Linked DNA regions of Homo sapiens. The protein of the gene in region 1 purifies or fractionates together with the protein of each later gene. This does not show direct contact. Each region holds a gene or a part of one and is shown on either strand. Other genes may lie near its edges. The genes, in order: PFN3 and POTEJ.

What was found.
Region 2: the proteins of PFN3 (region 1) and POTEJ purify together in Homo sapiens (affinity purification with mass spectrometry; one large-scale study listed by BioGRID and IntAct). This does not show direct contact.

Annotation. Positions count from the first base shown.
Region 1 is NC_000005.10:177,399,571-177,402,082, forward strand, and holds PFN3 (profilin-3), read right to left. Parts: upstream 1,092-2,512; 5' UTR 1,007-1,091; coding exon 593-1,006; 3' UTR 539-592; downstream 1-538. UniProt on the Homo sapiens protein: Binds to actin and affects the structure of the cytoskeleton. Slightly reduces actin polymerization.
Region 2 is NC_000002.12:130,614,358-130,618,188, forward strand, and holds part of POTEJ (POTE ankyrin domain family member J), read left to right. Parts: intron 1-2,432; coding exon 2,433-2,547; coding exon of another isoform or gene 2,548-2,577; intron 2,578-2,707; coding exon 2,708-2,881; intron 2,882-3,831.

The DNA.
Region 1 (2,512 bases):
ATGGTCTTGGACATGAGCCCTCTCAGTAGGCTCCCCTTGGAGGAATGTGGGCAGAGATGCAGAGGCCTGTGAGCCCCAGAACTGCTTTACAAGCCACCAAGCCCATCCTGTCACCCACTCACAACTTGCTAGTGCTTGAGGTATGAGTGGAGGGGGGAGGAGCAAATTGGCCTCCAGCCTGACACCCTGATGGGGAGAGGTGTTCGCGGGATGGGGAGGGGGCTCCCTTTACTTGTCCTGCCTAATGTGTGGGAATATCTCTGAGAAAGGACGCTAAGGCTGAAACAGACTTTGAGAAGCCCCCACCCTTGGACTCTTCCTCAGCTGCGGAGTCCCTAGGACCCTGGGAACGCGCCAAGGAGCAGCAGTCAGGCCAGGAGCCTCTGCAAGGCGTCCATGGGAGAGCAGGGTGTAGGGCACAGGGGCCTGGCAGCCTCTAGACTCAAAATCCCGGCTCCACCAGGTAACCGTCTTGCAAAGACCAGTTTCCTTATTTACAACTCCCCCCACCGCGCAAGTGGAGGAGGAGCCAGCCGCGCCCAGGTCACAGTTTATTTGGCCCGCGCTACCAGTGGGCGGCCTGGCTGGCCGGCTAGGCGCCCTGCATGCGCAGCCCGCGTATGAGTTCGTGCACCGTCTTGTTGAGGATGCCCCCATGTACGCCGCGTCGGCCCATTAGCACCAGGAGCGCGCGCGGCGCACGGCCCACGCACACGGCGCGCGCGTCCAGCCCCTTGGTGCGTGCGTCCAGCACGCCGTCACCCTCGGCCAGCAGGTGGTCGCGGATGACGCAGCAGCGGCGGCCCCCCACGCTCAGGCCCGCCTGCAGGAAGGTGTGCCTGTCCGGCCCCGTGAGCACGCCCACCTCCTGCGGCGAGATGGCCGCCAGCAGGCCCCCGGGCCGCGAAGCCCACACGCAGCTGTTGTCCGCATGGCCCACGATGGCCACGTCGTCGATGCGCTGGTCCCGCAGCACTGCACTGATGTAGACCTTCCAGTCGCCCATCGCGCTCCGAGTGCGCCCAGCCGCCTCGCACCTCTCGGGGAAATATAGAGGCGCCACGCGGGGAAGGCCTGCGGCGCTGTGAGGCAGGCTGGGCGGGGCTGTGACGTCACACAAGGCGCCGTCCCGGAGCGACCACCCAGGCTGGGGCACGTGGGGCGTGGGCGTTTAGTGCTGTCGCAGTTCTAAGGTTATCCTGTAGGATGGGTTTGGCAGAGCGCAGCGGCTCACTCCTGTAATCCCAGCGCTTTGGGAGGCCGAGGCGGGCGGATCGCTTGAACTCAGTAGCGAGATTATAGTAAACTATTATAGGATCGTGTCGCTGCACGCCAGCCTGAGCCACAGAGCGAGGCCCCGTCTCTAAAAAAGCAAAAACAAATTTTAATTAAAAAAAATTTTTTTGAGATGAGGTCTCACTATGTTGCCCAGGCGGGTCAGGAAGTCTTGAGCTCAAACAATCCTCCCGCCTCAGCCTCTCAAAGTGACGAGATTACAGGCGTGAACCACCGCATCTGGCCAATCTATTTTTAATTTTAAAAAGCTGGTTTTGTGAAAAAAGGATGTTGTGTCTGGACAGCCAGACCTTCACTTGTAAGGGAACCAACCATTCAACCCCCAGATTGTGGTTCTTAAGCATGAGAGAACATCAGAATCCCCCGCAAGGCTGTTAAACAGATTGCTGGGCCCCACCCCAGACTTTCTGTTCAGCAGTATAAAGTGTAGCCCGAGAATTTGTTATGTGTAACAAGTTCCCTGGTGATGGTACTGCTAGCCAAGGGACTCTCAGACCCACTACACTAGTGCGTGTTGGGGTGGGGACAACGATATGTCACCCAGCCCTTAGGGTCCACGCCACAGTCAATGCTCTTTTTTTCTATTTTCTTTTTTCTTTTCTTTCTGTCTCTCTCTTTCCCTCCCTCTGTTCCTTCCTTCCTTCCTTCCTGCCGGTTCAAGTGATTCTCCTGCCTCAGCCTCCTGAGTAGCTGGGACTACAGGCGCACGCCGCCGTGCCCGGCTAATTTCTTGTATTTTAGTAGAGACGGGGTTTCATCGTGTTGCCCAGGCTGGTTTCGAACTCCTGAGCAATCCACCTGCCTTGGCCTCTTAAAGTGCTAGGATTACAGGCGTGAGCCACCGCGCCCGGCCAATGCTAAGTATTTCTAACCACGATTCTCAACCTTGGCTGTACATGGAATTATCTGGGGAGTTTTACAAATATACCACTACCCATGCCCCATCCCTAGACATACTGATTTAATTGGTCTGAGGTGGAACTTGGGCATAGATTGGCTCAAAACGCTCCCCAAGTGATCTTAATGTATGGTCTGAGAACTACTGCTCTGTAAACAAAATGTTAGTTTCTCATAAGGAATAACATGCAGCTTCTCCTTGCACAGGGCTTGGTATACAGTATCCTAGGCTCAGTAAACATTAGCTGGGCTGGCATCTAGATTTTGCACGTTAAGATCTCATAGACCTTGTTCTCTGAGAGCTGTGGAGAAGCTGTGA
Region 2 (3,831 bases), on another chromosome or scaffold:
TCTTTACGAAATAGATGTGTTTTTCTTAGTATTGCTTAAAATAGCAGTGTATTTAGAAGAACCCATATAAAGATTTTATGAACAAATTTCAGTGCATCCATAGGATGGAATAATATGTAACTATTGAGGGTGTCAGTAGATACAGAGATATGTCGACGTGCAAAGATGTACTTTGCTATATCAAGTGAGAAAAAAATCAGTTTGTTACACATATACACGAACAGAATCTGCTCGTGTTAGCTGAAAATCTGTAGAAAATATGATCAAACTTGTTTCTGGGGATTTGTAAGTGAAGTTTTTCCCTTTCTCTTATCTGTGATTTCTGCAATGAACATCTGAAGTTGTAGTTAAGGTTCATTACTAATGCAATAATCCTTGGGAAGAGAAGGAATATGCTTCTTGCATAGATGCAAATAATTCCTCACATTCTATTATTTATTTTTATTTCTGTGGTTGGCTATTTTCTGTGAACTTTTACCCTCTTCAGAAGAAGAGGGGTCGTGTTTACCTGTTCCTGTAGATTTTATTATATATACATTTTATTCCATAATTATCTTTTCATTATATATAGATTAACATGTAAAAAGTATGAATTAATCATTTTAGTTGAGTTATATATTTATGAAAATTAAAATAGCAAATATAAATGATTATTGCTATTGCAAATGTATTGCGCTACTCTATAGGAGTTTTCTTTAAAAATATTGAACTCCCAAGCTGTGTTCATCCATTTTTCCTATCCATTTAGTCATCAGACATAAGCCAGACACCTATTATGTGGCAGGCATATTCTACTATCTCTCAGGATCCTTCCGTCTTTGAAAACTACATGTTTTCCTGCTGGGCTTGAGCAAGCTGAGAGATTTAAAATTGGGGCATTAGGACTTAATCTCAATTGAAGCTTTTCCTCCCTCCTTTCAAACAAAAGCATTTCTGGAGGTAGAAAATAGTAATAGATAACCTTTAACTGCCCTTTTGAAAATTTATGTCTTGGGGAAAAGACTGTTTTAGTTGTTTTAAGAACTAAAATGTGGTACATAAACAGCATGGAATAATATGCAGCCATAAAAGAAGGAACGAGAGCATGTCCTTTGCAGGGACATGGATGGTGTTGAAAGCCATTATCCTTAGCAAACTAACATAGGAAGAGAAAACCAAATACAGCACGTTCTCAATTACAGGTGGGAGCTAAATGGTGAGAACACACAGATACCTAGAGGGAAGGAACACACACTGGGGCCTATCAGAGGGTGGAGGGTGGGAAGAGGGAAAGAAGCAGGAAATAGAACGAACGGGTACTGGGCTTAACACCTGGGTAATGAAATAATCTGTACAACCAACCCCCTTGGTGCACATTTACCTATGTAACAAACCTGCACATCCGGCACATGTATCCCTGAATGTAAAAGTTGAAAAAAGCTCCACAAATAGTTTCATAAATCCATTTTAAAACAACAAAATTTATAACAGTCTTAAATCCTAATATGAATGATTGGAAATATCTGATGTACATACATTGTATAAATCTAAGTGTTGACAAAAATGAGCCCATGCTATTCATTTGAATTCCAAGTTTTCTTTGACTTAAAGTTTATTGAAAACCAAAGTAAGAATTGGTTTATTTTAGAAATTTGTTTTTGTTTTCACCTCTGCTCTCTTATTCCATAGTTCTTTTAGGAACTAAAATTTATCTAAATGCTGGTCATCTGACTGGAACCGCCCCAGACCTGTTGTAACATATTCTACTTAATGTAAGACACCAGGGATTGTATGATGCCCCATTATTTTATGCCTCAATAAGAGAATTATTTAAATGCCGCAAATTATAGTAAATCATGAATTGTAAGTGGTATTTCAGTGGACACAACATGGAGACAATGATCATCTCAGAATCACTAAAATACAATGTTAGCTGTAATATTTAAAACACACCTGAAAGTGCAGGTATAATTGTATCATCTCAATTCAAATGTTGTCTTTAGTGGTATTAGTAAAAATTAAAATATCTAACAATTATTGAGCTGTTATTTGTGTTAGGAACTATTCTATATCTTTTGTGCAGAGTCTCATTTAAGCATTACAGTGGTTTCCCGTAAGAAAGCTACTATTTTCATTCCTATTTTATTGATGAGGAAACTGAGACCCCAAAAGGCTAAGCAACAGCCAGGAAGTGACAGAGCTTCAAGTAGGATTCCAGCTCAAGTTGAATGTCATCCAAGGGCTATGCTCTTTGTATTCATATAGGATGCTCTTTCATTAATACAGCGAGTAAAGAGAGATAATAAATAGTGTGCTTTTTTCATGGGAAAGTTAAATGTTTGTTTTGAAGGCAGAGTAATAGCAGGCTATTCAGTGTTTGCAATTACATGAATCATTGCTATGGCTGTAGCTAGTGCACTACAATTTCCTAAAAAGTCTTGTCACTCTCATAGGACTGCTCTACATCTGGCCTCTGCCAATGGGAATTCAGGAGTAGTAAAACTCCTGCTGGACAGACGATGTCAACTTAATGTCCTTGACAACAAAAAGAGGACAGCTCTGACAAAGGTATGCAGTAGCCAACTATATCAGCATGAGGTGGGTTTGATTTCAATACATAGCATAAAAATGAGTTTTCTCCTTTAAATATAACTTAGGTGGTGAAAGCTGTGGAATGTTATTTTGAATTCCTAGGATTTGTAATTTGTTTTTGGTCTAATACTGACAGGCCGTACAATGCCAGGAAGATGAATGTGCGTTAATGTTGCTGGAACATGGCACTGATCCAAACATTCCAGATGAGTATGGAAATACCACTCTACACTACGCTATCTACAATGAAGATAAATTAATGGCCAAAGCACTGCTCTTATACGGTGCTGATATCGAATCAAAAAACAAGGTATAGATCTACCAATTTTATCTTCAAATACTGAAATGCATTCATTTTAACATTGACCTGTGTAAGGGCCAGTCTTCCATATTTGGAAGCTCAAGCATAACCTGAATGAAAATATTTTGAAATGACCTAATTATCTAAGACTTCATTTTAAATATTGTTACTTTCAAAGAAGCATTAGAGGGTACAGTTTTTTTTTTAATGCGCTTGTGGTAAATAATTTTTTTGAAAGCACTGAATTTGTAGAAGGTAATACTTACTATTTTTCAATTTTTCCCTCCTAGGATTTTTTTCCCCTAATGAATGTAAAATGGCAAAATTTGCCCTGAAATAGGTTTTACATGAAAACTCCAAGAAAACTTAAATATGTTTCAATGAATAGAGATCCTGCCCCTTTGGCAAGTTCCTAAGAAACAGTAATAGATACGAAGGTGATGCGCCTGTCAGTGGCAAGGCTTAAGATATTTCTGATTGCTCATGAGGCAGAAGTGGAAAGCGGAAAAGAGAGCAATCAGAAATATCAAGGCCAATTTGGAAATTAGGTAATAGAGGGAAAAGACCATGAAGAGGTTGTGTGTGTGTGTGTGTTGTCGTTGTTGATTGATTTGTTCCCTTTGTATGGTGAGACAAGGTTCTCTTCAATTTTAGAGAATGACAGTTTTCAGTTTGGGAGAGGGAGTTAGTGGGTTGTAAACTGAATAGAGATCAATTTTAGGAGGCCTCTGAGGAACCAGATTGGCAGTGAATAGGTGGTAATGTAAGGGGAAACCCTTGAGCAGAGGGAATATCAAGTAATTAACTGACTTAGTATCCTATTCTGGTAGAAATGGCCAATTAGAGTCTCAGCTCTGCTTTCAAATCTAGAGTGTCTGGATGGGAAGGTGGAAGATAAATAAGTAACAAGATCAAGTTGGATTTTGAGTTGACTAGACCCTGTTCTTCTCTTACCGGGG